Homo sapiens: one gene and its partners. The protein of the gene in region 2 purifies or fractionates together with the protein of the main gene of each other region. This does not show direct contact. Each region holds a gene or a part of one and is shown on either strand. Other genes may lie near its edges.

Region 1 (3,650 bases), on a different chromosome or scaffold from region 2:
AGCATTTCAGATTTTGGATTTTGGGATTTGGAATGTTCAATCAGTGTAACACAAATATTCCAAAATCTGAAAAAATCCAAAATCCTAAATGATTCTGGTCACAAGCATTTCAGATAAAGGATGCTCAACCTCTGTTAGAAAGATAAGAAGATGCAAACAGATGGTGTGATGGGAAAGTGAAAAGGCAGAAGTGAAGAGAACCTCCCTCCTTCTGTACACATGTGGTTAGAGGGTATTTTGCATGTCTGGAGAGGGGCTCAGTTGGAGCCTGGGAGCTAGAGAGGAACCTGGACAAATTTTGTGATGGCTGCTTTGGGGAGGTAGTGGCTGGAGTGTGGGGCACTTAGAACGTCAAGTAGCAGCGAGGACCCTGTTGACTTTCAGTTCATGAGTATCTACTTATGTGACACCACTAAGTGCAGAAGATACAGAATAGATAAAACTCAAATAACTGCCTCTTTTATGGTCTCACTTACATTCTGTAGCTCTAACCTGAACTGATGAGCAAGTTTTCCACATCTCATTAATTCACTTCCTACCATTGTCACTTTATTGTCCCTGTAAGTTACCTCTACTATTTGCTCAGTAATTTTCTTGAAATTACCTCTTATTTTACATATAAAGATAGAAAAAAGGAAGCTATATATCATTACTTATACTTTTATATTGTATTTGTCCAAACAATGCATTCTTAAAAGTAGTTTTAAAATACAAAACTATTTGACATTTTGTCAAAGGTTCCTTTCCATTTCACCTAAAATAATCTTGTGTACCATTAGTAGAACATAGACCATGCCTTGGGAACGATGAAACTGGTTGGTTGGTAGCGTTCTTTTTTTTTTTTTTTTTGAGACAAGTTTTGCTCTTGTCACCCAGGCTGGAGTACAGTGGTTCAATCTCGGCTCACAGCAACCTGCACCTCCGGGGTTCAAGCAATTCTCCTGCTACCACACCCGGCTAATTTTTGTATTTTTAGTAGAGATAGGGTTTTATCACATTGGCCAGGCTGGTCTCAAACTCCTGACCTCAGGTGATCTGCCTGTCTTGACCTCCCAAAGTGCTGGGATTCCGGGTGTGAGCCACCGTGCCCGGCTGGTAGAGTTCTTTGGGTCATTCAGAGCAAGGATTTTTTTTCCATGTTAGAGTATATATATGGCCTTGGTTTTTTTTATACAAGCAGGTCAGCTTAGCTGGCATGATCTGAATAAAATGGAAAAAGGCAGGCACCTCTTTGCCTGACAATTTTAAAGTGTTGCTATTTGAATACCAAGAAGTTTGAAGCTTGACTGCAGGGCCTTCCCAATTAATCTAGTCTGGAAAAAAAAAAACAACGAAAATGCCGTCAAGTAACAGGAGATTTGTCAGCTGCCCTGTTTACACTTTTCATATAAAACATAAAGGTTGGCAGATTATAGATGAAAGGTCAGTTCAGCAAAAAAGAAAATATGTCAGACAATCTCATAACATCGGTAACAGAGGATAGAAGTTGGAAGCTACTACTGGATTCTCGGAAAAAGATGAGTTTGTTGGTGATGTGTAAATATCATCACCTTTTTTGTGGCTCTTCATTTTGGTGGCTACCTTTTTATGCTGAGTCTCCAAAATTTGATTTAAAAGACACCAAAGATGCTTGTCTTTCTGAGAAAGATTTACTTTGCAGCAGTTTTACTAAAAAGAAAGAAAGAAAGAAAGAAAGGAAAAACCCAGTCTGAAGGGGGAAAATATACTTCCTTTGCCATAGTGGCTAGTCTCACCCACGCTGTCCCTGAACCCGAGCCCTAAAACGAGGATAAATTGAGAAACCCAGGCTTCCTGCAAGAGCGGTGGCACATAATGAAAGGGTTTACAGTGAGTCCCATCATCGTGAATGATTAAAGGGGAACTGGGCAACTACAGTGTGACTTGTACAGGTAAAATCTTCTGCTCTAAGAATCACACAGTAAGGACCGGCCTTGGAAGACATTGCTGTCTGGGAAAACGTTTTAGCCTGTTCCGGCTTTGGGAGCACAGGTGAATTGGGGCGGGGAGCACTATTAGACTCATAGGGTCACAGAGCCATGATATTAGAGTTGTAGGGTCTCTCACAAATTTCCAGCATGTGCAGTACTGGGAATTTGTGGCCCTATTGATATATCTTTCATCTGCACTTGAAGTTCTGGAATTGTGCAAGATACCACCATTCTATCCAAACAACTTGCTATGTACATCATACTCTTAATTACCAAATTCGCATAAACATGCATTTGAGGGAGGCTTCCTATTCTTTTTTGAACTCTTCAGCATAGCCTTACAAATAACTGAGGCCAAAGACGTGACATACAGCACTGTGGGCTAGTAGTCAAAGATATCCATTGCTGCTTGGCCTCAGCGTTTCTGGTTTCCTCTCTCTGCAGTGTTATTTTCTATCAGACTGCTTTCATCTCTCTCTTAAGCCTCCCCATTATTGCCCTTGCTATATATGCAATTTTATTATTGTCAGAAATCTAACAATTAATAACTAAAGAAAAGGCAGTAATATACAAAACATGGTTTGGCAGTCTTAAAAACTGCTTCAATATTAGCAAATATGTTTGTGATGTGCTGCTGAGACTGTGTGGACTTCACAATGTAATCTTTACAGTTTGAATTGCTGAAATCCAAGTGGACTGACGATGGAACTTGCTCCCCTCACCTCCCCCCACCCCCCGCCCACAAAATTCTCTTCCCCACTAAGTTTCCTTAATGAAATCATTGAGACTCTGGCTTGCTGGTAAGGACCAGTTCTTACAACAAGTGTATCCAATTTCCTGCTAGTGGTAACTTTAATTCTTCCTGGAATAGCAGGAAACATTAATTTCACATCAGACCCATAGGTCTCAGAAAGCTGGAATTATAGGTGCCATTGTCCCACTCTTTTTTTCCTCCAAAATAAAATAAAATAAAAAGCAGCAGATGAACAGTGAGGCTTGAGGGATGGGTAGTGACAGAGTAAGGAAAAGAACATTAATTTCAGGTGGGGACAGCTGCCCGGCACTATCTCCCTTTGGATTTTCGTTCTTATAGCATCACGGTGAGTTATTAATATGTATGACCCGTACTTTATTCAAACATTATAAATCTATGCAGAAGTCTGGTGTTTGGGTTTTCCTTTATAGCTTTCATTCTTCTTCCCAGAATTATCTCATTTTGATCAGGAAACTTTTGCATAAAAAGCACACACTGAGAACTCACATTTCCATACCATAAATATTAAAAGAGGGTTAAACTTTACAGTTTCTTCTCCCATCCCAATAGGAGGAAAGTTAGCCTTCTAATCAGGGGGCCCTTACTAATGTTCTTTTTATTCACAACCCAAAAAGGAAACTTAAAATTAGAGTTGAAATATGAAATTATACTATCTGGTTCCTTTAATGTATGTCAATTATGGAATGTTTGACTATGCCATGTCTTTAGTATGAAGCATATACTAAAAATCTAGTAGTTATCTAAGTTGTTAAGAATAGTTGGTTAGATTATGTTTTGAGGACCAAACTAGGTACAGACCTTCTCTTAAGGATCGTGATTAAAGAGCTTTTTACTGGATAAATATAAAGTGTGGATTCATTACCCTGTGGATTCATCACAATGAATACATAGCATACAGAAGAGGGAAATGGAACTAGAAAACTTAA
Region 2 (3,750 bases):
GGCAGGAGGGGCCCCTGGCCCTAGCACGTGAACAGCTTCTACTCTGCCTGGAAACCCCATGCCTCAGCTTTCCCCTACTTGCCTCTGAGCTCATGCAATTCTTGGAAGCCTGGGAGACTTACCTTGAAATTGAATGCAAATAGGACAAAGACCAAGGAGGATGGGGGGATGCCCTCCTTCCACGGGGCCCTGTGGCTTCCAAGTCTTAATCTCCTCTAGTCTCTTGTCTACGGAGCCTCCTTCAAACCCAGGGAAAGAAAAGCACCTGCCAGGGTTGTTTTTCTTCTAGGATCTTCTATTGATGCTCTGTGAGGTCCCCCAGGAGCCATGAAGCTAGGGCTGGCTCCTAGGGCAATGGGACTACAGTGTCCTTGTCCTTTCTTATTCTTTCTGTTCTTTCTTTCTTTCTTTTTTTTTTTTTTTTTTTTTTTTTGAGACAGAGTCTCACTCTGTTGCCCAGGCTGGAGTGCAGTGGTGTGATCTTGGCTCACTGAAACCTCCGCCTCCTGGGTTCAAGTGATTCTCTTGCCTCAGCCTCCTGAGTAGCTAGGATTACAGGTGCCCGCCATCATGCCCAGCTAATTTTTGTATTTTTAGTAGAGACAGGGTTTCACCATGTTGGCCAGCTTGGTCTCGAACTCCTGACCTCAGGTGATCCTGCTGCATCGACCTCCCAAAGTACTGGGATTACAGGCGTGAGCCACCACGCTCAGCCTCTTTCTTGTTCTATATGTCCATGCTCTGCTCCACTTCTGCCCCTTCACTCTGCCCCCACACATCACTCCAGACTGGCCTTGTGGTCAGAGCCTGGAATGCCTGGGCTGCTGGGGGCCTGTGGACTGCACTGGGCCAGAACCCCTGCCGCCTTCAAGACTGGCCTGTAGCCAGCAGGTAGGTGACTTTTCCCAGGCCGGCCTATCCCACCTTTCCCCTCCACTCACTCACCTCCCTTGCCTGGGTCAATTAGAGAAAGCTTGTCGGCCAGGCATGGTGGCTCATGCCTGTAATCTCAGCACTTTGGGAGGCCGAGGCGGGCGGATCATCTGAGCTCAGGAGTTTGAGACCAGCCTGGCCAACATGGCAAAACCCCGTCTCTACTAAAAATACAAAAATTAACCGGATGTGGTGGTGTGCACCTGTAATCCCAGCTACTCGGGAGGCTGAGGCAGAAGAATCGCTTGAACCCAGGAGGGGGAGGTTACAGTGAGCGGAGATCGTGCTACTGCATTGCAGCCTGGGCGAGAGAGCGAGTCTCCATCTCATATAAAAAAAAGAAAAAGAAAGAAAGAAAGCTTGTCTGTTGGCCTGCCCTGCAGGGTGGAGTTCAGAGGGAAGGTCAGGAGCCTAGTGACAGCTCAAAAAAAAAAAAACCCAAATACCAATGTTGGCCCCTTTTGCCTTTCATTCATGTGTTTTCTATACACTAAACTCACATATTGGGTTTGCAGATCACTCCAAGCTTGGCTGGAGCTGTGGTGGTAAGGAGGGTAATAGAGAAGCTTCCCCACCCTCAACCCCACCCCTTCCTTCCTGGAGTTCCCAGCCCTGACTTTAGATCCCTCCCACACTGGACCTTCAAAACCCTCAGGGCAGAGAGCAGCCCTACACTCCCTACACCACACCCATACTCAGCCCCTGCAGGCAAGGAGAGAACAGGTCAGGTTCCCGAGAGCTCAGGTGAGTGACACGTTGGAATGGCCCAGGGCACCTTCACCCTGCTCAGCTTGTGGCTCCAACATTCTAGAAGCCGAGGCCTCTGCCATCCCTGCCCTTTCCCATGGATATTCCATTTCAATTAGACAACCCAGCCTGGCCGGAATCCCCCTGCGTTCCTTCTTTTCCTTTGTGTATTTTTGAGACAGGGTGTTGCTCCGTCACCCAGGCTGGAGTGTAGTGGGATCCTGGCCCACTGCAGCCTCAAATTCCTAGGCTGAGGCAATCCTGCCGCCTCAGCCTCCTGAGTAGCTGGGGTTACAAGAGCAAGCCACCACACCCAGCTAATTTTGAAAAATATTTTTTGTAGAGGAGAGGTCTTGCTTTGTTGTCCAGGTTGGTCTCAAACTCCAGGGCTCAAGGGATCCTTTCCCGTTGGCCTCCCAAGGCTCTGGGATTACAGGCGGGAGTCACCCTGCCTGGGCCCCTCCTTTTGATGAGTCATCAGTTTTCATTCCCGCACGAGGCTCTAGCCCCTGGTACCAGCTTAGTTGCTCAATGGGCTGTGTTTGTTCTGGAGCCCAGATGGACTGTGGCCAGGCAAGTGGATCACAGACCTGGCCGGCCTGGGAGGTTTCCACATGTGAGGGGCATGAGGGGGGCTCAAGGAGGGGAGCATCGGGGAGAGGAGCGCACTGGGTGGAGGCTGGGGGTCCCAGCAGGAAATGGTGAGACAAAGGGCGCTGGCTGGCAGGGAGACAGCACAGGCAGGCCCTAGAGCTTCCTCAGCACAGCTGGACTCTCCTGGAGACCTTCACACACCCTGATATCTGGGCCCCGCGCTACGAGGGTGCTTTCACTGGTCTGCACTATGCCCCAGGCCCTGGGATTTTGAACAGCTCTGCAGGTGACTGAAAGGTGCGGCCAGGCTGGGGAACGACCTGGTTTCAGCCCCAGCCCCGCCACTGACTGACTTTGTGAGTGCGGGCAAGTCACTCAGCCTCCCTAGGCCTCAGTGACTTCCCTGAAAGCAAAAACTCTGCAAAGGGGCAGCTGGGTGCTGGCTCACACCTGTAATCCCAGCACTTTGGGAGGCTGAGGTAGACAAATCACTTGAGGCCAGGAGTTCTAGACCAGCCTGGCCAACATGGTGAAACCCCATCTCTACTAAAGAAAAAAAAAAATTAGCTGAGCATGGTTGTACATGCTTGTAATCCCAGCTACTTGGGATGCCGAGGCGGGAGGATTGCTTGAACCCAAGAGGTGGAGTTTGCAGTGAGCTGAGATTGTGCCACACTGCACTCCAGCTTGGGTGAGAGTGAGACTCCATCTCAAAAAAAAAAAAAAAAAGAGAGAATCCCACTTTCTTGCTGTTGTGATGGTGGTAAGGGAACGGGCCTGGCTCTGGCCCCTGATGCAGGAACATGGAGCTGATCCAGGACACCTCCCGCCCGCCACTGGAGTACGTGAAGGGGGTCCCGCTCATCAAGTACTTTGCAGAGGCACTGGGGCCCCTGCAGAGCTTCCAAGCCCGACCTGATGACCTGCTCATCAACACCTACCCCAAGTCTGGTAAGTGAGGAGGGCCACCCACCCTCTCCCAGGCGGCAGTCCCCACCTTGGTCAGCAAGGTCGTGCCCTCAGCCTGCTCACCTCCTATCTCCCTCCCTCTCCAGGCACCACCTGGGTGAGCCAGATACTGGACATGATCTACCAGGGCGGCGACCTAGAGAAGTGTAACCGGGCTCCCATCTACGTACGGGTGCCCTTCCTTGAGGTCAATGATCCAGGGGAACCCTCAGGTGCATGGCTGGGTCCTGGGGGTAAGGGAAGTGGAGGAAGACAGGGCTGGGGCTTCAGCTCACCAGACCTTCCCTGACCCACTACTCAGGGCTGGAGACTCTGAAAGACACACCGCCCCCACGGCTCATCAAGTCACACCTGCCCCTGGCTCTGCTCCCTCAGACTCTGTTGGATCAGAAGGTCAAGGTGAGGCCGGGCTCAATGGTTCACACCTGTCATCCCAGTTTGAGACTGAGGAGGGAGGATCCCTTGAAGGCGAGAGATGGAGACCAGCCTGGGCAACATTGCTGTAGA
Region 3 (3,650 bases), on a different chromosome or scaffold from region 2:
AACCCGTAGCCCATGGGCTGCATGCAGCCCAAGACGGCTTTGAAAGTGGCCCAACACAAATTTGTAAACCTTCTTAAAACATTGTAAGATTTTTTTTTGCAATTTTTTTTGTTTTTTAGTTCATCAGCTATCGTTAGTGTATTTTATGTGTGCCCCAAGACAATTCTTCTTCCAATGTGGCCCAGGGAAGCCAAAAGATTGGACACCCCTGGTAAAGATAACACAAATTGTTCTAGAAAGCCCACGTTGAAAATGCCCCAATGCTCATCAAACTTAGCATAATAAAGTTACTCTGCCAGACATATGAACTCACAAAAAGAAGTAGCTCCATTATGAAAAATAGCTAAATAATCTATATGAAATGCTGTCTATCTAGAAAATAAATAAGAATTCAAGAACCTTCATGGTCTAAACCACAGTAACGTTCCCAATGAGATAAGAAAAAAGAGTCATGAATTAATACAGAAAAAAACATTTATAAATAAGAAAAAGAAGCAGGAAAATTAAAATAGAGAAAAAGTAGTGGAATGTGAGTATGTTGGGGAGCTGGAAGTCAAGACAAAACAGAGGGACTTAGAAATGAATTTGTTTTTTAAAGTAGATACTCATTATCCCCTAGCAATAAAGTATTATATTCCAAAAGACAAGAAGCAAAAAAACTCACACTGGTTTAGAAGTACATTGTGAACTACAACTTCGCAAGCTCCCAGAATGTCTCCCCATCGTCTCCCCTGCAGTCTTAACAACCTGTGAGAGGGTAGGGCTTCTGTGTGATCTGCCTGCCCAGCCCAGCCTGGTAAGCAGTGCCCTCTGACTGCTTGTGCCTTCGAAATACATCAGAGACTAGAATATTTAGAGTGATTCACATTAGTGCATACGGAGAAACAAAAGGACTGAGAGCTAAGGTCTGAGGTCAAGAGGCTGGCAACCCCTCCATGGCATGTGGAAGAAGCAGTAGTGAGAGGCAGCAGAGCTGACTCATTCAAAACAGAGGGGAGAAAACTTAGAACTCCAGTGAAGTGGAAGTGAAGGCAGAGGAAAGGGCTGCAGACAGAGGGGGAGCTGCAAATGCAGACATGCAGCACAAATGACACAGAAGCAGACAAGAGAAACAGGAAAGATTATACAGTAAATAATATTCTGAATGAAAATCTCATGCAGATTTCAGATCTCAGTAAAGTCTACAACTCAGTTGTTAGAGTGTCTTTCTGCACCTTTGGATTGTCGATAATGGGGGTGACAACAAGATCTGAGTCCGTGTAGATAAGCTCTCTCATCTGGGATTCCAGGTCCTGCTGACTCAGGTGTCCACTTGTAATCTGAAATGAGAACAAAAATTAGACTTTGTTTCTGCGACTAATGTAGATCTTTAAAACACTGAACCAGTAAGATGCTGAGGAAGACACCACTGTAAAATATCACCTATATCAATGTACTTCAACTGCTATTCAAGATGGTTGCAGTCTCATTTGATTTTCACAAAAATCCTAAACTGTAGGCACCATCATTCCCATTTTACAGATAAAAATATAAAACTCTGAGAAAGTAACTGAATTGCTCATGTTACCACTAAGTCTGGCTAGGACTAGAAAAAATATCTTTACAATTCAATGTTCTAAACTGTGATGAGGCAAATTGGTTTTTCCATAACAGCATGGCTTCTTTTTTTTTTTTTTTTTTTTTTTTTGAGGCGGAGTCTCGCTCTGTCCCCCAGGCTGGAGTACAGTAGCGTGATCTCGGCTCACTACAAGCTCTGCCTCCCGGGTTCACGCCATTCTCCTGCCTCAGCCTCCCGAGTAGCTGGGACTACAGGCGCCTGCCACTGTGCCTGGCTAATTTTTTTGTATTTTTAGTAGAAACAGGGTTTCACCGTGTTAGCCAGGATGGTCTCAATCTCCTGACCTCATGATCCACCTGCCTCGGCCTCCCAAAGTGCTGGGATTACAGGCGTGAGCCACCACGCCCAGCCTTTTTTTTTTTTTTTTTTTGAGATAGAGTCTCACTCCATCACACAGGCTGGAATGCAGTGGCACAATCTCAGCTCACCGCAACCTCTGCCTCCCGAGTTGAAGCAATTCTCCTGCTTCAGCCTCCCAAGTCGTGGAATTACTGGTGTATGCCACCATGCACTGCTAATTTCTGCATTTTTAGTAGAATCGGGGTTTCACCATGTTGGCCAGGCTGGTCTCGAACTCCTGGTCTCAGGTGATCCACCCAACTTGGCCTCCCAAAGTGCTGGGATTATAGGCGTGAGCCACGCGCCTGACCAACGGCTTTATTTTTCATTCACAGAATGTTAATCAATTTATTTCTGCTTTACAGAACATTCAATGTGAAATTGAAGCTGTAACATAAAAAAAATTTTCAGACTTAAATACAGACATGCTACCTAAGTATTAAACCTCAATTATTTATTAAGCCTAGTTAGAGTTGATACATAATGAAATGAATCAGCAGATATTCACCATCAGTTATTCCTTTGAGATGGTTCTTTGTGCTCTATTTAAACATAATTTGTATTCCTAGTGCTATGCCTCAGTATTTCCCAACAGGGAAAAAAAAAAGAGAGAGAGAATTTATGCTTAAGAACTTTAAAAGAAACAACGGCTAGCAAACTAAATAAAATAGAAAAGTAAATCAGTGAAGTAAGGAATAAGGAAAATAAATTACCCAAAACTGAGTGAGGAAGGGGCATGGATAAAGGAACAGAGGAGTTAGCTAAGAAAGTTCCTGGAAACCCAAGCTGCCCCATGCAACTCAGACAAAAGACAAGAAAACACAAAAAGAGGCCGGGTGCAGTGGCTTAGGCCTGTAATCCCAGCACTTTGGTAGGCCGAGGTGGGCACATCACGAGGTCAGGAGTTCGAGACCAGCCTGACCAACATGGTGAAACACCATCTCTACTAAAAATACAAAAATTAGCCAGGCATGGTGGCAGGCGCCTGTAATCCCAGCTACTTAGGGGGCTGAGGCAGGAGAATCGCTTGAACCTGGGAGGCGGAGGTTGCAGTGAGCCGAGATTGCGCCATCGCACACCAGCCTAGGTGACAAAGCGAGACTCCACCAAAAAAAAAAAAGAAAAAAAAAAAAAAGGCCCACAAAGAATGAAGAGGAAGTTTGTTTAAAACAAGAAAATCTAAGTTTAAGAACATGGACTTTCAATTAAAGAAAAAAAAAGATGGACTTTCATGGTAAAAAGACAGAGGTAAACTCACATTGCCAAAAAAAAGATGGACTTTAAAGGCAAAAAGACAGGGGCAAACTTAACATTGCTGCTTGTTAATTATGTGCTCTTAGGGAAGATAAAAAAAGCTTTGTTTTCTTCATCTATAACAAAGATTAAAACAAACAAGCTTTCAGGTTTGTGAAGAATAAACACAAAGCACTTAAAACAATGCCTGGCACTGCTTGAGAGAAGACAGTGATAGTTAATGAAGACACTTAAATATATACATCATACTTGCTTCAGTGGAGAATGGATGGAGGGGAGCAATGGAGAACTGAGGGGACCAGTTAGCAGGTTACTGCAAAGCCTGGATGGAAAGGATGGTGTCTTGAGTGAGGAAGGGGGCAGAAGGAAAGAAAAGAAGTCAATGATAGAGCAAAGGGCTGGATATCCCTGCTGATTTAACACTGAGGAGGAACTGCTA

The links.
Region 1: the proteins of SULT1A4 (region 2) and MPPED2 purify together in Homo sapiens (co-immunoprecipitation; one large-scale study listed by IntAct). This does not show direct contact.
Region 3: the proteins of SULT1A4 (region 2) and ULK4 fractionate together in Homo sapiens (co-fractionation; one large-scale study listed by BioGRID). This does not show direct contact.

The regions. Positions count from the first base shown.
Region 1 is NC_000011.10:30,495,747-30,499,396, reverse strand, and holds part of MPPED2 (metallophosphoesterase MPPED2), read left to right. Parts: intron 1-3,650. UniProt on the Homo sapiens protein: Displays low metallophosphoesterase activity (in vitro). May play a role in the development of the nervous system.
Region 2 is NC_000016.10:29,458,309-29,462,058, forward strand, and holds the start of SULT1A4 (sulfotransferase 1A4), read left to right. Parts: upstream 1-1,604; 5' UTR 1,605-1,677; intron 1,678-3,073; 5' UTR 3,074-3,077; coding exon 3,078-3,225; intron 3,226-3,329; coding exon 3,330-3,455; intron 3,456-3,544; coding exon 3,545-3,642; intron 3,643-3,750. UniProt on the Homo sapiens protein: Sulfotransferase that utilizes 3'-phospho-5'-adenylyl sulfate (PAPS) as sulfonate donor to catalyze the sulfate conjugation of phenolic monoamines (neurotransmitters such as dopamine, (R)-adrenaline/epinephrine, (R)-noradrenaline/norepinephrine and serotonin) and phenolic and catechol drugs.
Region 3 is NC_000003.12:41,899,511-41,903,160, forward strand, and holds part of ULK4 (serine/threonine-protein kinase ULK4), read right to left. Parts: intron 1,320-3,650; coding exon 1,215-1,319; intron 1-1,214. UniProt on the Homo sapiens protein: May be involved in the remodeling of cytoskeletal components, such as alpha-tubulin, and in this way regulates neurite branching and elongation, as well as cell motility.